Linked DNA regions of Homo sapiens. The protein of the gene in region 1 interacts with the protein of each later gene in a pairwise test. Each region holds a gene or a part of one and is shown on either strand. Other genes may lie near its edges. The genes, in order: SAMD12 and USP20.

Evidence for each region.
Region 2: the proteins of SAMD12 (region 1) and USP20 interact in binary tests that used the Homo sapiens proteins (3 or more experiments, as listed by UniProt).

The regions. Positions count from the first base shown.
Region 1 is NC_000008.11:118,617,654-118,628,805, reverse strand, and holds the start of SAMD12 (sterile alpha motif domain-containing protein 12), read left to right. Parts: upstream 1-6,842; 5' UTR 6,843-6,989; coding exon 6,990-7,002; intron 7,003-7,150; exon of another isoform or gene 7,151-7,271; intron 7,272-7,619; exon of another isoform or gene 7,620-7,805; intron 7,806-11,152.
Region 2 is NC_000009.12:129,863,035-129,874,153, reverse strand, and holds part of USP20 (ubiquitin carboxyl-terminal hydrolase 20), read right to left. Parts: intron 10,969-11,119; coding exon 10,855-10,968; intron 8,852-10,854; coding exon 8,773-8,851; intron 6,150-8,772; coding exon 5,705-6,149; intron 5,293-5,704; coding exon 5,152-5,292; intron 4,845-5,151; coding exon 4,729-4,844; intron 4,550-4,728; exon of another isoform or gene 4,483-4,549; coding exon 4,310-4,482; intron 3,702-4,309; coding exon 3,607-3,701; intron 673-3,606; coding exon 639-672; intron 456-638; coding exon 410-455; intron 1-409.

The DNA.
Region 1 (11,152 bases):
AGCATATGGCCTCCTAAAAAGAAAAGGTTCTTTATGTTTTTGGTCCAGCCTCTTTCCTTTATAAATTTCCCAGTCTCAGGTATGTCTTTATTAGCAGCATGAGAATGAACTAATACACCTTGACTTTTGGATTGGCCCTATGACTTGATTCAACACATGATGTAAGAGAAGTGAAAGTGCTGCAGTTCTGAGACAGGGCTTAAAAGCCTTGCATATTTCCTTTTTCTCTCTTGCTCCTCTGCCGTTAGCTGCTGCCCCTTTAGCCTGAGGCAGAGTTCCCCAGCTTACTCAAAAACCTGCAGCGAGGAGCAGAGCTGCCCCAGCCTCCTTGACTGAAAGCTCAGCCACCAAGCCAAACTGAGCCCAGTGGAACAGAAATCTCTCCCCACCACATCCTCTAAAAACAAAAACAAAAATCAAACCACCAATGAAGAACCTTGGCCTGAACCTGGGTTCTAGACATTGTTCTGCTATGATGTGATCCTGGCAAACTTTTTTGGTTTTCTGCCTCAACTGTGAAATGATAGGACTTAGAGTAACTTGCCTCTAAGTCCTTTCTGAACAGATTCTAGGTTAGAAAAAAAAAGCCTACTTCTAAGAGTATAAAACATTAACACAAACACAAACAAAATACTAACCTGCAGTTTAATTGGGAAAAATAAACACATTTATGATTAGGTAGTTTACTCATGTGCTCCTTCAGTCAGACAGTACTTACAGATACATAATACATGTATTAAGTATGTATTGTTGGGCCAGATACAGTGCTAGTGGTTGGAAGATCAAAGGGGAGCAAAATCAGAGTCCATTCTTAATCCGATGGAATTAGTGGGGATACTGACACTATTTAAATGAAAATAATAAATATATTCCTACAAACTGATATGAGTGTTGTGGAGAAAACTAACCCAGAATGGGAGCCTAAGAAAAACTTTGCTAGGGCTTGTAGGCTTTAACCAAAGAGTAAAGGGATGCAATCAAATGACTTCAAATTGGAGTGAGATGATTAGATTTGGGTCATACCATTCTGTTTGCTGGTGGAGAGAAGCCACACTGGGGAAGAATTGTATGCAGATAGACTAATTAGTAAACTACTGAAATTAGTAGTGGTCTTAGTGAGAGAAAACCGTAGCTTAGACTTGAAGAGTACTGAAGATGAATATCTTCTAGCTAAAATCTTCCATTAAGATCACTGTACTTTAAGCTCATTCAAGAAAAGTTTCACTCTTAGAGAGTTCTTTTGCCCAAATAAGGTGGGATTTTGTTGAAATTCCCGATATCAAATGAGATTCTTCCTGTCAGAGTGCATTTCAATATATTTTTGGAAGCCAATAGGGTAAGTGGCACTTTTACACCTGATGAGAAAGTACATTGAGATGGAATGAAAAAAGTACTGAATGCAGAAGTCTCAAGTGTTGAATTCAGGCTCTGTCTGGGTGTATAAATTTGGGCTAATCATCCATCCTTGCCCAGCCTCTGTTTCATACCTATAAAATGAAGTAAATACTATCCACTGACAGCCATTGTAAAGATAAAATGCAATAATGTATGTGAAGGCTCACTGTACCCTATATAATGATTAAAAATATAAAGTTTATTAGGTAATTATTAACAGAGGAACAGAAGGGAAGGGAAAGGACTGGTCAAATAACTACAGTAAGCGGTCAGCTTTAGCATCTCTGCCTAGTAAAGATTTCTGGTCATTTTGGAAGTAGTAGTAAAAGGGAGCCCATCACACCTTAAGTTTTTAAACATCTGGCATAGAATAGTTCAGTTGTGAAAATAAGTTGCATCTCTTCTAGTGTTCTCTTGTGCTGATGTGTACCAATGACAAGTAATTCCAGATGACCATTCCTATGCTTTTACACACAGTTTACAATTTCCCCTGGTTGGGGAAGTAGGGGCAACTCTGCTCAGAAGAGGTGCTGCAAATTTATTAGGTTGGTGCAAAAGTAATGGCAGTTTTTACCATTAAAAAAAAAAATGGCAAAAACTGCAATTATTTTTACACCAACCTAATACTTCAGGGTTGGAAATCCAGAACACAGAAAGTTTGTATGCAGTCAGCCACTAGAGCCTACAATAATCCCACACTCTTTTCTATCAACAAAACCTATCCAAAAAGGGACAAGTGTCCAGGACACTGCTCTTCCATGGCACAGCCCTGTTTTCTTGCCTGTCAGAGGAGGCTCTGCATTGATCAAGTTAAGTTCATTCAGTGGCTTAACTACAAGTCGGACTGGGCAGACTTACTCCACACTTGGCAAATATCCTGAGGCCCTTGCTACTGCTTAACTGAATTATATCCATGTTCTTTGGGAATGGCCTCTCAGGCTTCCATGGATGATCAAAAGAGCAAACACTTATTGGGCATCCATTATGTGCCAGGACAGCGCACAACACTATAGATACTCTCTCAGTCACTGCTGAGCCCCAAACTGTGAGCTAGGTAATGTATACATTACACAATTAATAGCATTACAATACATGTGGGAAAACCAAGGCACAGAAATGTCAAAGAACTTTGCTAATAACCAACATCGAGTAAATGAGAGTCAGGATTACAATCTAGTTCTGTATGTCTACGAAACTTGAGTACTGAAGCCAAATATTCAGATAACCAGTTAATATAAAGGTAGACAGATTCTGCTCAAATTTTGAAGACATAATTTAAGTCTGATTTTGAAAGTATAGTTTAGACGAACGATGGTATAGAATATCACCAACTTATCAACAAACAGATAACACACAATGCGATTTAATTATGCACAATGTGATTTAAGCAAAAACAACTAGGCTTTTGCTTAAATCATGTTCCCTGAAATATGCTTACTTCCTCCAATGGAAGCCTGATATAACTTGAATGGTTGGCACTTTATTCATGACTCAAGGATTAGAGTTAGTATTTTTTATCTTAATTACAAAAAAATTATTTTTTTCCTCTCAGTTCCTCCTGTCAAAAATTTTACTTTTTAGGGTTTGAATCCTTTTGGTTAGGTTTAGAAGATCTCCCTGAACAGAATAGAAACATAATCTATTTACTTTTTGAGATTTATGAATGTTTTCTGTAGAGGCTTGTGAATATAGCAACCGAGTTAGAACAATAAATACAGTAAAGTACTTATATGTACTATTTTAAATCTTAGAATCCAGTGAAATCTGTAGCCTCATCTCAATATTTCTTTTTTTATTTAATTCACTATAAGGTAATGGGCTTTTCCTTCCCTTTCTGTGCTCTCTGATATATTCAGAAATTTTTGAATCATTCTAAATATCACAATTTCTGATATTAAAATATTTTAAACCCTTCATTTTATTAGTAATGACAATTCCTATTTGGCCAAGTGCTTATGAATTCAGATTTGTGATCACGTAATCAGTATTGAAATCTAGATGGAGTAACATCACAGAGTTCTACACTTAGGTAGACCTCAATCCCCTTGCTACAATTCATGTTTTGGAGACATGGGGCAAATTACTTAAATTCACTGAGCTTCAATTTCCTCATCTGGAAAATAGTGATATCTGACAATATTGTAGTGATTAAAGGAGATGATGTATGTCAAGATGCTTAGACAGAGCTTGGCACTTGTAATTTCCCAACAAATGCTACTTATAACAAGGATAAAAAAATAGTAGTAATAAATTATCTATTGAGTACTTACTATGTAACCACAATTATGACCAAGAATCTGGAAGATATGAAGCATAAGACTCAGTTCCAGCACTCGAAGTGCTTATATACTATAAGGAACAAACAATAGCATCATAATGAACACAGAATTTGGCTTATGAGAGGTATGGGATGAGGTCTGGACTTTGCCCCTTGCTAAAATTGGGTATATCTGTTAGGAACTGTACTTGGCTGCTGATAAAAAAGACCAAAAATAAGTCATGATTGCAGTCTGTGAAAGATACTAAAGCAGAAGCTAAGCTGTGCCCAAATTACTGAGCCACAGAAACTGAAGTAATACATGGGTATTGTTGTAAACCACTAAATATTGGGATAATTTGTTAACAGCAATCGATTAATACATGTGGCTCATCATGTTGTTGTATACAATTGTAATTCCTTCATTTGCATTACTTTATAGGAGGGTTTGGAAAGCTTTTTTTCTGCAAAGGATCAGGTAGGAAATATTTGAGGCTTTGTAGGACAAGAGGCAAAATTGAGGATATTATGTAAGTATGTCTTTATAATTTCCAGGCTTTGCAAATTATACTTTTTTTGTTTTTTTTCCAACCATTTAAAAATGTAAAAATCACACCTAGCTGGTGAGTTATAAGAAATAAATGGTGAGCCATATTTGGCTCATTGGTCTTAGTTTGTTGACCCCTGCTATATGGAATTATTTGGTTATACCACAGTTCATCTCTCCAATCTGTGTTGATAAATATTTGAGTTGTTTTCCATTTGGGAACATTAAAATAATGCAGCCACAAACATTCTTGCACATGTCTTTTGGAGAACATCTGTATGCATATTTGTTTGGTGTAAACCTAGGAGTAGAACTTCTGGGTCACAGGATAAGCATATATTCAGCTGAATATTTCAGATGGTTTTCCAAAGTGGTTTTGTGAATTTGCACACCACCAGCAATATATAAATCTTTATTGCTTCACAATCTTGCCAACGGTTGGTATTTTGTGTCTTTATCTTTCAAACATTCTAGAGATAAATGTAATTTTTTTTTAGTACTTCCCAGGTGATTCTAATGTTCAGCCAGAATTGAAAACCTCTGCGCAACTATTGTTTATCCCTTATTAGGCAGAACCACATGAAATTGTTCTATTTGTAGGTTTTAAAAATGGTCAAACATTGGCTATTTCATATGGTAGAAACTAACATCTCCTTCACATTTTATTTATACTAAAAATAAAACTCGTCTAGAATGCACATCACTGGGAAAAATATTAAAGATGAGCTAAGATGAAGTTTTAAAATTAACCACAGATTTCAATGACTTTTATATTTTTATATCACCCAGATATTTAAAAGCTTGGAACCAGACCAATGGTTTTCACCCTCAATGAAGACTGGAATCACCTGTGGGTTTTTAAAACCTGAGTGCCTCTACCCAAACCCCCATAAGCTCTGATTCTGTGAGACTAAGATAAAAGCTTAGGAATATATATTTGTAGAAGGCTGATGCACAGCCAAGGTTGAGAACCATTGATACTACCTGTCCTATGGCTTTCTTTCACATTCATTCAATCTCAGAAAATACTTAACACTTTGGTGATTTTATATACATAAAGTAGTGAAGCACCTGGATTTCAGTTCTTTCCAGAGTTTAGAATGCTTGGCTGTGTATTAGGTCGGAAAATTCTTTTTCCCATGGAAATTATGTCTCACTGAATGGGTCTCTCTCTACTGTACCTAAAAGAGAGGCTTAGGTTTGACTTGTACACAGCTCCATGGACTCAGAATTAAAGTATCAACAAGAGCATTTAATGGTTACACGCAGGTATTTTTTAAAGTACCTATACACATATTATTATTATATATTACCCAGTAGGGGAACTAAGCATGTAATTAGTGACCAGAACAACAGGTGTGCATGTATACACTGAGAAACGAAATTGTTTTGAAAAACATTTTTTTTTTTTTGCTGATGACCAAGACACACAAAAATGTCTAAGTAGTCATCATGGGAAGAATCCGATTTTTGTACTTCCTCATTTTACAGAGATTAACATTATATATGAGTGACTGGGTGGATGTGGTACCAAATACATTTGTAAACTGAAGGCCTTTAAAAGTCAATCCAGTCTTGAGCCAGATTTATTCCCGAGGCTATTCCCTTACCCCTTCCAGCCACAACTGTATCCGTATTTTCACACGCAGGAAAAAATGTTTAGAAACTTAATTTTTACGAGCTGTCGAATTGTATTGCTATCCACGTGATTCCCATTATCATGTCTGCTTATAGCATCCCCAGCACCTACAGCTAGGACATAGGTTCAGAAGTTGAAGGAACCTGATTCTCAGGCACTGTTAATTATTAGGCCCTATCACAGGCTGTCAACAGGCTCCAAGTCTAGGCAAATTGAAAGCCTCCTATCCTGGAAGCCAGACAGGCTTTCATCTGACCTCCTCCGGTGCAATCCTGGCTCCCAGACTTTGTTCCTAACAACCCCTTGGGGACGTTGCCTATTGGGGTTTAAGCCACTCCTCCTCCCCTACACCCCCATGCCAAGTATTTAGCCACCTGAACCACCCTGTAGGATAAGACAACTGTATCAACCGTCGGAATTCCCCCACAAAACCCATACATCTCAGGGTGCGAAGGAACAAGTTTCAACCTCACCCTGGGCAGCGTTCTCTGGCCCAGGTGGAGAACCACACAGGAGGACAGTGGTCCTGCTCTCCCTACTAAATGGTGGTTCAGGAGGCCAGGGGGCGGGGCGGTACCGGCGGCAGAGGCCCACGGACGAGCTCGCAGGAGCTCATCACACAGCTGACCGTCACCTGCCCACCTCACCACACCTGCTAGGTGCCAAACCCCTTGTAATGGACAGGGAAGGGCTCAATCACGGGTCCCTACTCTTAGCAGCGAACCTATCTCAGCGCACGGCCTCCTGGGAGATGTAGTCCAGACCGCTTCCCGGGAACCCCCCCCCCCTCCCCCCCCGCCCCGCCACAACCAGGCATCCCTGGTCCCCTCACAACTTCCCCAGGAGAGATTGCTCGGCCTGGCCAGCTGAAGCTGGAGTTGCTCTCCAAGTGTCGGGGCCAGGCGGCACTCCGCGGAGGAGTCGGGGTGCTCTCCCCAGTCCGAGCGAAGGGAGGGAACTACACTTCCCAGGACGCCCTGCGCGCGCCGAGCCGGGAGCCGGCTGCCTCGCTTTGCGTGACCGCGGCAGGTTGGTCCTGGAGCAGATAAGCGCAGAATATTTAGGCGAAAGCGAGAGGAAGGGGGGAGCGCGGGGCAGGAGGAGTACCTCGGCCAAGAAAATTATGCATGCGTTAGGGAAGCTCTGAGAGAATGGCTGTGGAAGGTAAGGGACGCTTGGGGCATTTTTAAGCTCCCTCTTAACCCGCGCACCCCAAGGCACACATCCCCGATGAAGCTTGGCGATCGTGGGGAGGCGAGGAAAGGGGGTGGCGGAGAGCGGGCCCCTTCCTCCTCCACCTCTTGGCACTCACCTGCGCCGCCAAGGCCAGTAGGCGCTTTAATTCAGTTGCTTTGGAGAGACGTGAAGGGTAGGTGCGTAGGACTTTGAGGTAGGAGGTGTGGAGACGAGTGTCCCTGATGCGAAACGATATCCTGGAAATGGGGGGAAAGCCGGAGGATCCGGCATGAGGTTTTGGCCCCGAGATGCCCTTTTTCCCTGCCCCCTCCCTCCGGAGCAGGCTGGGTGGCCCCGGGGCTGGGGATGCTTGGTTGGCCCCCCTCACGTGGGAGAGGTCCCCAGCCCAGGTGCGTCATCCGGAAGCTTGGACTGGGATTGGGTCGAGGGCCCTTCGTCCTATGCACCCAGCAGCGGCGGCCGCAGATGTACCCAGAGGGTAGAGGTGTCCCTACACCTGTCTCTGCTTATACAGCCAGCGCCCCGGGCTTAGCAAAGTTTACAGACATGAAATGTAATCAGCCAGGGAAAAGAAGTGCAACAACCTCTTCGATTTGGGTGAATCCTTTTCTTTGAAGATCACTTTCTTCTTACAGTCTTGAGCTTCGGCTTTGCAGTTTTGACCGTAAAGTCCTGCCTCCCTTGAACTTCCTGGTTGAAAGCAGGGTCAGGCTGTTCGTGAGGGATCCTGAGTTTTTCATTTCAGGTTATCTTACCTTGGAACACAAACTTCCTTGTTTAGGTAGTTTCTGAAGAAGAAAAAAAAACTGTGGACCGGAAGGGTTTGTGATGTCACATTAGAGGTCAAGCTGTGCCTGAATGATGAAATGATTGTGGGACGAAATGGGAGCCTACATTCACCTGCAGAATTTTGGTTTCTGAGTGCAGTCAGGTCAGAGGGCGTACTGAAGTAGGAAGAGGAGGGCTTGCCTGCCAGCTGCTTCAGGCGCCTTGCCAAGGGGAAATCAGCCTATTCCTTGTAGGCTAGAGACGAGAAGGCCACGAGGCTGGCTTGCTGCTCCCTCTCCTCCCTGCCCCAGGAGAAAGAAATTGAACTAATCTGACTCTTGCTCCCCTTATAACGACTGTCTTAACAACCTGAAGTAGCAACAACCCAGCTCCTATACTCAGCACCCATAAACTCGGGAAACTCTTGCCTTTGGGCTATCTCAGGTTCAGAGATCCACAGCCAGCCACTTCCAGCTTTCCTAACTTTATTAACAAAAATGAAATCCTCTCTCTCTCTTACAATCAAGATTTTTCTAGGTTTTCTTTTCTGTGCAAATGTACCAGTAGGGTGAGAATCTTTTTTTTTTTTTTTTTTTTTTTTTTGCATCGTTATGCTTGATAGTCAAGACTTCAGATGCCAAAGAACAAAACAAAAGCCGAGATAAAGTTCATCTTGAGCTTGAGACCAAGGATATGTTGACCTACTCCTTAAGTGTCCGTTCTATGTCACCCATCAGGTGACACTGATTATGATCTCTCGTCTTCACCACTCCTGTGTCCCCAAGACAGGGACACTCCTCTTTGTTGCTAGTCCACACTGTTCTCGAAAACAATTTCTTGTTCCCTGTAAGAAGTATAAATTTGTCTTATTTCTTGCGTGATGGGTGATTACACCAGTGAAGCCAGACTTTACAAAAACAAGAACTTAGGAAGGAAGTACATGTGGACTATGGAGAGTTTATTTTCTAGTGACTTGGTTAAAGTACCTGTCTAGTAAACAGGAGATCCTGAGTTTGAATCACAATGAGGTCTCAAAGAATGAAGGAAGTATTTTAAACTTTAACTTCAAATATGATTCCTATCTTTGGTCTTTGCAAAGATATCAGCCTGGACCAGTCCCTTCCTGGTTACTCCTACTTGGTCTTTCAAGCCTTTGGGAAAATGTCACTTCCTCTGGGAAACTGTCCCAGCCCTCCTTTTTCTTCTGCCTTCTCAGCACTCTTTCCAGTCTATGGGAAGTGCCTCCTGCTCACATTTATCTTAATACTTATCATACTTAATCTGCCTCTTACTAGACTCTAACCCCCTTGGGGGTTAGACTTGGACTTTATATTCCTAGCTCATAGCACAGTACTTTGCCCATAATAGGTACTCAATGCTCATGAATTGCATGGCAAATATATTCATGGAGGTTTTGTAACTGGTTCTATAAGGGTACATGGGGCTTTCTTGGAAGCCTAAATGTGATACAATAAGGGATTTCTGACAGATTTGAGGATGGGAGATTTTTTTTTTTTTTTTTTTGAGACAGAGTCTTGCTCTGTCGCCCAGGCTAGAGTACAGTGGCGCGGTCTCAGCTCACTGCAAGCTCCGCCTCCCAGGTTCACGCCATTCTCCTGCCTCAGCCTCCCAAGTAGCTGGGACTATAGGCACCCGCCACCATGCCTGGCTAATTTTTTTGGTATTTTTAGTAGAGACGGAGTTTCACCATGTTAGCCAGGATGGTCTCGATCTCCTGACCTCGTGATCTGCCCACCTCGAAGTGCCCTTCTCTTCAGTCTTTTGTCTTGATGCCCAAAAAATCTTTTAGAACAGTTTACCTCTACTGCTGGGTGACATTGTCCCTGGACACATTTGGGATATGTAGGAACTGCTGCTGGGGGCTGCTGTTGGTATTTTGTGCCCATGGCCACAGATAATAAATGTCCTGCAGCGCATGGCCATCCCGTATAACGAGGCCAAGCCATGGCCAAGTAATGATCAGTTTACCCAACTTATTGAGAAATGCTGCTTCAGAGAATAAGGAGTTTTGCCAGAGGAACTGGAATAGAAAATACAGTTCGAATTGCTTAACATTCTAAGCTTTAGTCTCCACATCTGGAAAAAATGGGCTCACTACTGCTTTCCTCCTGGGAACATTGTGAGGATTTTTTTTTTTTTTTTTGAGACGGAGTCTTGCTCTGTCGCCCAGGCTGGAATGCAGTGGCGCGATCTCGGCTCACTGCAAGCTCCGCCTCCCGGGTTCACGCCATTTTCCTGCCTCAGCCTCCCGAGTAGCTGGGCTACAGGTGCCTGCTACCACGCCCGGCTGATTTTTTTGTACTTTTAGTAGAGACAGAGTTTCACCATGTTAGCCAGGATGGTCTCCATCTCCTAACCTCGTGATCCGCCCGCCTCGGCCTCCCAAAGTGCTGGGATTACAGGAGTGAGCCACCGTGCCCTGCTCATTGTGAGGATTAAATAAAGGAGAGGGCTTCTAGAAGGGTGTCTGGAACCTGCATCCTAAGTAAATATCACTTGTACTCTCATCCCTTCTCTTAGGAAAAGCTATACTATTTGGCATGTGTTTTATATCCTGAATTTTCACTTATTCATGCCAGCCAGTTTTTCTAATTAGTAACAAATTAGAAGGTTTTTTACTATGTGTAACTTTTTCTTAAGTAAACTTGAATTTGTAAAAGTGTTACTAGCAAGTAGTTCACTCATTCACTTTGCTGAACCTGCAGCCGTGTGTTTAAGATGAAAAAGAGGTGCCCTTTGTTTATTGTTTTGTAACTACCCTGTGTTATGTTTTCTTCTTAGTTTATTTGCAACATCCTATTTATGTCTCCTAGTCTGCTTGTGACCCATGCTTTGCATTTATGGGCAGCTTACAGGTATGCTTTCCCGCCACAGAACAGGGTACGACCTTATGGTCTGCATTTGGATTAGGATTATACTGGCATACATTGCCTTTTTTTAAAAAAAAAAAAAACAAAAACAATGTCTTGTGAAATAATTTAGCAGGACTGGGGACTAGGACCTCTTGGAAGGAGGTAGCAGGGACCCCAAACTAATCCATTCTCTATGGACAGACTGTGTATAGACGGTTAAACCTATTGATGTTTTCTAACAGAAATGGGTTGCAATATTATTCAGGGAGAAGAAAAATGTGGATTCATTGGGGACAGTGTCGTATTCATCTTTGTATTCATCTCTGTATTCCAGGGATGGCGCCTGGCACTTAGGAGGCCCACAGTCATTGTTTCATGAATGACATATAAATGCACGAGTCTCCAGAGCTAGAGAAGGATTTTTTTTTTACCCCTCATCCCCAATTCCTTTTCTTGCTTTGTCCTCAGATATTTAT
Region 2 (11,119 bases), on another chromosome or scaffold:
CAGCCTACACCCTCCAGGCCCCACTCAGACGTTACTCCTCAGAAAGACCCCTGGCAACAGCCCCAGCTGGACCAGCTCTCCTCCCGCCACTCTGCAGCTGGCAGGAGCCATAGCTGTCTCACTGGGGGTGGTAACCCAGTGTCCCACACACCTGCCTCCCATTGGGCCCTCATACAACATGTTAGACAACATGTGCTGAGGCTACCGAGAGAGGGCACCAAGTCACAGTTGGAAAAATGTGCCCCCTGCCAACCCTTCCCAGAGGTTTCTCAGCCAAAGCTATGGAGTCTCCACGGCCCCTGCAGCACAGAAGTGCCCGAGCAGTGGAGCAGGCTCAGCCCCTGCCTGGTGTGTGCTGGTGTGCATCCCGAGATAGCTGAGGAGGAGGCTGCCGAGGCCACTGGCTCACCTCGGGCAACCGCAGGACTTTGCAGTACTTCACTCCGTTCCGCAGCCTGGGGAGGAAGCACGAGCCAGCATCAGTGTCCGGCATCAGGGCCAGGGGCCAGGGAAGCAGCCCTCCACCCGGCTCCCTTCTGGGAAGGCAGGATTATAGGGGGCTCTCTGCAGGAACCCAAGGGGAATATGTAGGGCACAGAAACGGCAGTTAGGGAGAAGGCGGGGGAAGGCTCACTTACTTCTTACACCGCTCACAGCTGTACATGTTGTCACCTAGGGCAGTAAAACAAAGGGTCAGAGGTTAGCAAGGATGCAAAATGAGGGAGCAAAAAAAAGTGACTATAATGATTTCTGCTTAAGAAATAAAACCTGGCTGGGCATGGTGGCTCATGCGTGTAATCCTAGCACTTTGGGAGGCCGAGGCGGGCGGATCCCCTGAGGTCAGGAGTTCGAGGCCAGCCTGGCCAACATGGCGAAACCCCATCTCTACTAAAAATACAAAAATTAGCTGGACGTGGTGGTGCGTGCCTGTAATCCCAGCTACTCAGGAGGCTGAGGTGGGAGAATCGCTCGAACCTGGGGGGCTCGGGGCAGAGGCTGCAGTGAGCTGATGCCACTGCACTCCAGCCTGGGTGACAGAGTAAAACTCCATCTCAAAAAAAAAAAAAAAAAAAGAAGAAGAAAAAGAAAAAGAAATAAAACCTGAGAGGTACTGGAGGGAGGGAAGGCCCTGGCTGGGCCCCACAGCCAGAATCCATACAAGGGAGAAATGGTTATATTTGACCCCAGAAATACTTCAACATCTGTAAGATACCACCAAAAGCAAAATTAAAAGGCAAAAGGCAAAATGGAGGTGGGGTGGGAAGTGCAACATTAATTACAGAAAATGTATTTGAAACAATTTTTTTGAGATAGGGTCTTGCTATGTTGCCCAGGCTGGTCCCAAAGTCCTAGGCTCAGAGGACCCTCAGCCTCCGGAGTAGCTGGGGTCACAGGTACATGCCACCATGACCAGCTTAAAATCTTAATGTATAGTTTCCCCCTCCATGCACACTGTGAAAATTAAGTCAAAATGGGATCAAAGATCTCAATATAAGACCTAAAACTATAAAACTTTTAGGAGAAAAGTAGGAAAAAAGTTTCATGACATTGGATCTGGCGATGATCTCTGAAACACAACACCAAAGGTGCAGGCAACCAAAGCAAAAGACACAAACCACAGAATGAAACGCACCCTACAGGATGGGAGGACAGGGTTATAAGTCACGTATCTGGACACATAAAGAACTCCTCTAACTAACGAGGCCGGCACCGTGGCTCACACCTGTAATCCCAGCACTTTGGGAGGCCAAGGCAGCAAATCCATTTGAGGTCAGGAGTTCGAGACCAACCTGGCCAACATGGCAAAACCCCATCTCTACTAACAATACAAAAATTAGCCAGGTGTGGTGGCACGTGCCTATAATCCCAGCTACTCGGGAGGCTGAGATGGGAGGACTGCTTGCACCCAGGAGGCGGAGGCTGCAGTGAGCCAAGATCATGCCATTGCACTCCAGCCTGGGTGACAGAGTGAGACTCTGTCTCAAGAAAAAAAAGAATCCCTATAACAAGCAACAAAAAACAAAATAGGCAAAAGACTCACATAGATGTTTTTCCAAACACTTACAAATGGCCAACAAGCATATGAAAAGACACTTAACATCACTATCATTAGGAAATGCAAATCAAAACCACAACGAGGCTGGGTGCGGTGGCTCACGCCGGTAATCCCAGCACTTTGGGAGACCAAGGCAGGCGGATCACCTGAGGTCAGGAGTTCAAGACCAGCCTGGCCAACATGGTGAAACCCCATTCTACTAAAAATACAAAAATTAGCCAGCCGTGGTGGCATGTGCCTGTAATCCCAGCTACTCGGGAGGCTGAGGCAGGAGAATCGCTTAAACCCAGGAGGTGGAGGTTGCAATAAGCCGAGATCATGCCATTGCACTCCAGCCTGGGCGTCAAGAGAGAGACTCCGTCTCAAAAACAAAACAAAACAAAACAAAAAAAACGCACAATGAGATACCACCTCATACCCATGAGGTTGACTCCCATCAAAAAAGTAAACAAAATGAGTGTGGACGACGATGTGGAGAAACTGGAACTCTTGTGCGTCACTGGTGGGAATGTGAAATGGGGTGGCCACTGTGGAACCCAGTACGGTGGCTCCTCGAGAAATTAAAAATAGGCATAGACCCAAAGGGATGAAAGAAGAGAGGTGTGCACACCCATGGTCAGAGCAGCATTCCTCACAATAGCTAACAGGGAAGCGGCCTGAGTGTCCACTGACGGATGAACGAATAAGCAGAAAGGCCCCAGCCATCCACACAATGGAACAATAAATAACCAGCATACAAAAGGCAGGGCATTCCGACACACACGCTGCAACGTGGATGAACCCTAAGGACGTTATGCTCAGTAAAAGCCGTCAGTCACAAAATGGCAAGTACTGTATAATTCCACTTCTATGAGGCCTTTAGAGTAGTCACATTCACAGACTTGAATGTGGAGGTTGCCAGGGGCTGGGAGGTGGGAGTAGGGAGCTGTTTCACGGATACTGAGTTTCAGGTTTGCAAGATGTAAAAGTTCTGGAGATGAATGGGGAGGATGGCTGCGTGACCATGTGCATGTATTTAACACTACTCGACTGTGCACTTTCTGTTAAAAACAGCATTTACAATGGTTATGGTGGTAAATTTTACATTTTGTGTATTTTATCGCAATTGAAAATTGGAAATAAAAAAAAAAGAGAGAGTTTTCCCAAAGGTTTAGATGCCAAATAGCCAACGGAGAAAAAGAACAAGAACAGGAATGGGCAATGTTTAAATAAATACATAGAGCCAGTATATTTAACAAAAAATGTAGAAACTCATCAGTAATCAAGGAAATGAAAAATTAACATACATCATTTTTGCCCACCAAATTGGTAAAAATAAAAATAAGTGAACACTCAAGAGCTGCAAGATGATGGGGTTGGGATAGCACATGGCCCTGGTCCAGCGTGGCTGGCAGTGGGCGTGGGTATCTGATGGGATCAACCTTGGAAGCCAAGTCTAGCCTGGCTGTGCATCCCACAAGCCCTGGGCTGCATGCTGGCCTGCTGGGGTCTGCACATCCCCGTCCCCACAACCCTCCACCTCCCCGACCCTTGCCAGCCAGGCCCCTCACCCTTTAACTCATCAGCGGCAAAGAAGGCAGCAAGGCAGTCTTCCAGGGTGACGACAGGCCCCCAAAACCAGCTGGGGGTACAGGATACCACAAACCTACAGACAGAAAAGGAGTGCAGGGGTGCTGCCAGGGCCTGGGCAAGAACAGGAGCTGAAGGGACTCTGGCTGAGGTCTGTCAGGCCTGAGCCGCAGAAGGACCCTGAAGGCCCAGAGAAGCAGCCGGGCACGGCGGGTCGGGGCAGAGGCCTGGAGCCAGACACGTCCGTGTCCTGGGCCGAGTGACATCATCTCTCCGCAAGCCTGGCCTCCTTCATCTGTGTTGCGGCCATGATCATGCTACCCCCTCCCTGGGGTCATGCGGGTCTCTGGCCTCAGGCAGGAGAGGCAGCCCTGGGAAAGCTGCTGCCCTTCCCGCCAACCAGGCCTGTGTCCTGCTGCTGCCCTCCCTTCAACCTGCCATGTGGTCACCTCCCTGCTGTCCATCGCCCTCCAGCTCCAAGGGACTATCCAATCCTGGCCACTTCAAAGTAGCCAAGAAATCCCCTGCATATTAAGCCAACTCCTCTGCAGGCTTCGGCCCCCAGCTCCTCCCAGGACCTCCCTGGTTCCCCAAATGCATGGACTTCACTGTGTACTGTCTCCCGCCCAGGAAAACCAGGACAGGCCCAGCCCATGTCGCCCAGTAGTGGCAAGGTGGGCGCACCGTCGGATGTACTCCACAATGAAGGCCAGCCAGCCCTGGGCGGCATAGCTGTCCCCACAGGCGCCTGGCTTGGCCGGCACATTCTGGTAGATGGCTGAATGGAGCTTGGCCAGGTCCTCCTTTCCAGGAATGGGCAGTGATAAGTCCTGGAACGTTTCCACTGTGGTGGATACCTGTGGGGTTGAAGGTCAGTCTGCTGCCCATCCTCTGGCAATGTCTGCACCCCAAACCCCAAGCAGCAGGTGAGGGGCAGAGGGACTACTCCCCAGGCCATAGACACGGGATCCACGCAGGCAGGGCCCTCCCCTGGATAAAAGCAGGGAGCACCCGTGGAGAGCCCACCCTGCACCCAGTCAGGGCAAGAGCTGCTGAGGCCACTGGCAGCCTGGCCCAGCTCCCCCCATCCCTGGGGCACCCACCCGGTCACAGGTGAGACACTGCACAAGGCTGAGAATGGAGCCGTCAAAGATGTCTGAGATGACGCTGCGGTAGCGCTGCTCCTTCCGCCTCCGGCTGCCAGCACTCAATACCTGGGCTGGGGACACAGCACAGGACTAGCCCAGCCTCCACCTGCCTGGCCGGGGCGAGGTGCGGGCCCTGCGGCTTCCTTTGACAGGATGTGGAGTGACATCCGTGAGTCACATGACTGGGTAAGCAATTCACCATCTCATGCCTCTGTGTCATCCTCTGCAAAACGTGGCTCCCACACTGGTGTCTCAGGGGTGTACCTGAGAGGAGCCCATAGCCCGGCCCTCCGCCACAGGGGGCCATGAGAAAGGCAGCTACGGGCGTAATCTGTACTCCCAGCCTCAAGCTGACCCACCCTCCCGTGCCCCCCGAACCTTTCTTGAGCACGTACGACGGTGCCATCCTCACGGGGCTTGCACGAGGGGGGCTGCTAGACAGCTTGGCATGGCCCTCGTGGTGGTGGACGGGGCTGCAGGGGCGAGAGGAGCTGCGTAGGTGAGCATCATTGTCCGGCTCTGGGGGCAGAGAGGGTACCATGCTGGGCCAGGGCAGCCAGGCCAGCTCCACGAGTGGGCAGGAAGATGACCTGCCAGCCCCTCCTAAAGGGACGAAAGCCTGACCCTAATGTGTCTCCTCTGTCATGTGCCCACTCCTGGCCCCAGCACACAGGCCGGAGCAGACCTGTCCAATCCATGTCCGGCTGGAAGGCTCAGGGCTCTGGGAGAGGGCTCTGAATTGGGCTCCAGCATTATGAGCTAGGGGACCCTGGGCACATCACTGAGCCCCCCCGGAGGCTGACTTCCCCACTGTCATTCGGGTCTAGTGAAGAACCCGTCCCCCGGGGGCTACTGCAGGTCGGCGCTCAGCACCCGGTAGGTACTGGGCCATAGGCTGAGGTTCCTCCCGCAGTCCCCGGCCAGCTGATACCTGGCGTCCGGCAGGGGCTGGAGGACCGTGGTGACGGGGGCTGGGCCTCCGCGGGCTGGTCGTCAAGGGCAGCCATGGCAGTGTCCACATCAGCGTCCTCGTCCACTTGCTCCGAGTTTGTACGCTGCTGGCCCCAGGAGAACTTGCGGTCCTTCATCCGCTCCTTCTCAGAGATGGCTCGGCCCGCCTCATCTGGGATCAGCAGCTCCGTCTCGGCCTGCGAGCTGCCCCCGCCACGCCCCTGCCCGTCACCCTCACCCCGGTCACTGCTCGAGTCACAGGACAAGAACTCATCTTCTGATGGGCTCCGGTCACCCTCCCGTTTCTCATCCGTGTCACTCGAATCTGAGTCCCGAGCCTCCGTCAGCGCCACCGTGGCCACCACCGGCTCCTTGAGCTCCTCGTGCAGCTGGTCCATCAGGCAGCGAAGGAACTCTTGGGTGTCCTAGAACCAGGGGCTGCATCAACAGGGCTCCCCTGGAGGCAGGAGGAACCAGTCTCCAGCGCCCTGTGGCTGATGAGAGCGCCAGCCTCCATCTAGGAGGACCTCATGGGCGCCCCCTGCAGAAGAGTTGCTCACCCCCACAGCGGCCTCCCATGGCAGTCTGTCCTAACCCCATTCTTCTGAGGATAACAGTGAGGACTGGAGAGGCTAAAGGACACCTACCAGGACACACAGCTAGAAAGTGTCAGAGCCAGGTATGCACCTGGGTCCATGCAACTCCCCGGCTCCGGCTCTGAATCTCCTGCCTCTGCTGCAAGCTCAGCACGGGAGGGACAGAGAGGCAGTACCACATTAAGCCCGAGCCACCTTTCTCCCTACAGATGAGACCAGTGGAGGTGGGCAGGGGGGTGGCGGAAGGATGAGGGAGTGTGATGCCAAAAGAGGACTCACCCGAGTCCTGCCCCAAGCCACGCTACCCACAGGCCAGACTGCCTGCATGCTCTACCCTTCCTCTGGCTCCCCCTGCTCCCTCAGTCCCTGTGCCAGCCCCCACATACCCTCACTGCCTGCTCTCACCTTCCCACAGACCTGGTCATGACTCAGTCTAAGCTGCCCCTGCAGGCTGCCTGGGTCTCAAATCCCAGCAATGACCATTTTATCCTGACCACTCTGTGACTGGGCCACCAGCACAGCAGGAAGCCAAGGCAGCAGGGGCTCGGGCAGAGGCGCCCAGTGAGCCCCACTGAGATCTGTGTGCTCACACAGGGGGTGCACTGGGAGGTCAGAACGTGGTGGTGGCAGCAGACCCCAGCAGCTAGCGGGTGCTCGGGTGGTGCTGGGCATTGGAGAAGGACTTGGGTTCCGAGCCCAAATCAGCCCCAGCAGTCCCTGACCTGGTTGTTAGAAGCAGCCCTCAGCCCAGGCTCTGATCCCCAGGAGGCAGGGGTCACGTAGCAGCCAGAGCCAGCCTCATGTCACACATCTGGGAAGAGGATCCCGGCTCTCTCCACTCATGTGCAGGGAAGGGAGGGCTCAGGAGGGACTCCCCAAGGCAAAGTGTCAGGCTCCAAGATCAGAGGAATGAACCACGAGGTTACATTGCATCAGGGAGGGGACACGTGTCCTGTGGCAGGCACGATCAAAGGCCCTTTCAAGAAGAGGCTTTCAATCTGCCATCTACTTCTCTTTCTGGTTCTTCCTTTCAACAAAAGTACTATGTGTTCCTTGCCAAAATCTCAATCCATGCAGAAGCACAAAAGAGTCTTTTGGCCCTTAAGAGGCGCCCGCAGCTGCGTCTACAGTTCAGCCTCAGAAGTGTCCCCACACGATATCCTAAAACCACAGAAAGGGATGCTTCTGCCGGAGCCCAGATGGAGTCCTGCCGCAGCGCATGGCCCTCCGTAACGGCATCCTGACCCAGAGCTGAAAGCCGGCAGGGCGCCTTGCACACAGTCAGGGTGGTGCTGTGCTGAGGGATGGGCTCAGGTAGGCCTGAATGCCATCTCTGCCAGGATGTGCTGTGTGACCTGGGTGAGGGGTAGAACCTCTCTGAGCCTCAGCTCTTTACCTGTAACGTGTGGGTGACAACAGTGCCCACTTTGTGAGACTTCTATGAGGACTAAGTTGTGACCACTTAAATGGTGCTCAGTGAATTTTAGTCATTGTGCATGTTATCACTCCCCAAAAAGAGAGGTGTCCAGGCAGTGCTGAGCTTCTCAAGCAGGAGCCAAAGGCCCAGCAGACTTCATCCTGGGACGGGACAGCAGGCAGGGGGTAGAGGGCGGAAGTTGTCCCCACATGACTGCCACTCCGTCCATGGTGCTCATTTCAGGCAGCACAAGAGGTGACCCAGCCAGGTCCAGCTCTGCCTGCAGGCCTGGCATGAAAGCCCAGGCTGTGGGCCATCTGGGGCAGGAGGCTGGAGGGCAGGAGCCATCAGCCCGGGGCTGAGGTGTACGCGTGGCTGCACTCTGTCTTGGTCTCATTATTTTATAAAATAGAAAAATGTGATTGGTTTCAAAAGGGTTCTCTAGATTTAAAAAAAATTTTTAATCAAACTTTTTACTTTAATAAAAGTGAAATTTTGCCTGTGGTTTGGGGAAATGAAACCCTGTGTCATTTTGGGTGCAACGCGGAGGCCCTGCAGCAAGGTTGCCTGGGTTCAAATCTCCCCTCCGCCGGGTGCAGTGGCTCATGCCTATAATCACAGCACTTTCGGAGCCTGAGGTGGGACGACTGCTTGAGCCCGGGAGGTCGAGGGTGCAGTAAGCCATGACTGCACCACTGCACTCCAGCCTGGGTGACAGAGTGAGACCCTGTACCCACCCTCCCCCACAAAAAAAAGAATTCCCCTCCACCATTTACTAGCTGTGTGGCCTGTGCAAGTGGCTCGGCCCCTGAACCTCAGTCTGTCCATCTGTGAAGTGGGGTTAAATGTCAGCAGGTTGCTGGGAGGCTCCACTGTCCTCACACGTGTGAAGGGCTTAGGAGTGAGAGCCTGGTCCGTGAGACCTGCCAACCAGTGCTCAGCTGCCATTGCGATTTTCCACTCTGGTTTTGGCGTCAAAGTCAGGCCTGGTGGGTCATGGCCTTGGGTGTCCCCTGGGCAGCTCAGATGGCTTACCTGCTGGGCATAGCCTCGGAACATTGGGTTGACCAACTTGATCCCATGAGACAGACTGGTGGGGACCACGTAGCTTGGCCTGTAGGAAGCCCAAACCCATTAGTCCAGGTAGCCTGCCTTGAGCTGCTCATTCCCGAGAGAAGCAGGCAGCCAGCCCGTCAGGCTGGATCAGAGTGTGGCGTTTCCTGACATTTGGGGAGGGGCCTACTCAGCCAGGAGCCCCAAGAGGCTCACACATCTCTACAGACAAGAAGAAAATGTCAAGTCATAGCTGCCTCAATTAAGCAAAGAGCTCAAATAAAATAGCATCATTTCCTTCTGGTGCACAACAAACTCGCCTAAACATGATTTGTTTTCATTCTGAAACACTTACTGTGGTTTTCTCATTTCAAAAGTAAGACATGTTCATTATTGACAAATCTAAAATTTCAGAAAAGTACAAGAGAAAAACACCACCACCAATGGCACCAGATACTTACCATTAGATTTCTGGTTCTGTGAAACTACAGATGCATATACAAAAATACATACAGATACACATTTAAACTTGGCTTCTTACACAAGCGGAATTATATTGTACCATGCTGGGTTTTTTTTTTTTTTTTTTTGGGACAGAGTCTTGCTCTGTTTCCCAGGCTAGAGTGCAGTGGCATGATCTTGGCTTGCTGCAACCTCCGCCTCCCGAGTTCAAGTGATTCTCCTGTCTCAGCCTCCCAAAGTGCTGGGAATACAGGTGCGCGCCACCATGCCCAGCTAATTTTTGTATTTTTAGTAGAGACGGGGTTTCACCACATTGGCCAGGCTGGTCTCGAACTCCTGACCTTGCGATCCACCCGCCTCGGCCTCCCAAAGTACTGGGATTACAGGAGTGAGCCACTGCACACAGACTTTTTTTTTTTTTTTTTTTTTTTTGAGACAGGGTCTCACTCTGTCGCCCAGGCTGAAGTGCAATGGCATGATCAAGCTCACTGCAGCCTGCCTCAACTTCCTGGACTCAAGCGATCCTCCCACCTCAGCCTCCTGAGTAGCTGGGACCACAAGTGCTCACACCACACTCAGCTAATTTTGTAGTTTTTGTAGAGGCGGGGTCTTGCTGTGTTGTCCAGGCCGGTCTCAAACTCCTAGGCTCAAATGATTCTCCTGCCTCGGCCTCCCAAAGTGCTGGATTTACAGGTGTCAGTGACTGCATCTGGCCCCACGCTGGTTTTTAATCTGCTTCTACATTTAATACATATTTCTCCCATGCTGGTTTGTTTTGTTTTTGTTTTTTTTTTTTTGAGACAGAGTCTCGCTTTGTCAACAGGCTGGAGTGCAGTGGTGCGATCTCGGCTCACTGCCACCTCCGCCTCCCAGGTTCAAGTGATTCTCCTGCCTCAGCCTCCCGAGTAGCTGGGACTACAGGCACACGCCACCACACCCAGCTAATTTTTGTATTTTTATTAGACACGGGGTTTCACCATGTTGGCCAGAACGGTCTCGATCTCTTGACCTCGTGATCCACCTGCCTCAGCCTCTCAAAGTGCAGGGATTACAGGCGTGAGCCACTGCGCCTGGCCCTACGCTGGTTTTTCATCCGCTTCTACACATAATACATATTTCTATGTGCTCATTTAAAATTATTCCCAACTTTGACTTTTCCTGGAGAAACAGATCTAATCACAGACTCTGATCTTTAAATTAATTTCATACTGTGCCAGAAGCTCCATCCAGTCTGTGCTCCCCTGCCCCACACCTCCTTCTACACACACAGTCCTGGCTGAGGCCGGGTCACCATGTCTCTTGGCAAAGACATCTACCAGTGGCTGCTCGGTAGGGTCAACAGTAGGTCAAATTCTAGCTCACTTTTTGCAGGTTCTATGACCTTGAGCAAGATACTTAAAGTGCTCTGCACCTCAGTTTCCCTATTTGTAAAACAGGACTGGATGCAATTTCCACCCCGCAGGCTTGCTGCAAGCATTACCCGGGACAAAGTGAGGCAAGTCCTCGCTGGGGGCTGAATCCACAGGAAGTACTCAATCATGGGTGCTGACAGGAAACCCCAGTCCCCACACACCGCCCAAGGCTAGGGATGCAGCTGCTCACCGTTTCTTATGCCAGACCTCAGAGACCAGCTTCTGGTAGCTCTTGCACAGGGCTGGCTTCTTATCTGTGCGCACCAGGCCGCCACACTCCAAGAAGAACTGAGTCAGCGGCGGGCTGGGTGCAGGGGAGAGAGAGCCAGGTCAGGAGAGCAAATGAGGCATGCGGCAGTTTAGAAAGGGCTGCATAGCGGGGAGCCCTGAGTGCTCGCACAGGGAGCACAGTGGCCCTGGACCCAGAAACTCCTGAAGGTGACTAGAAGGCTCCT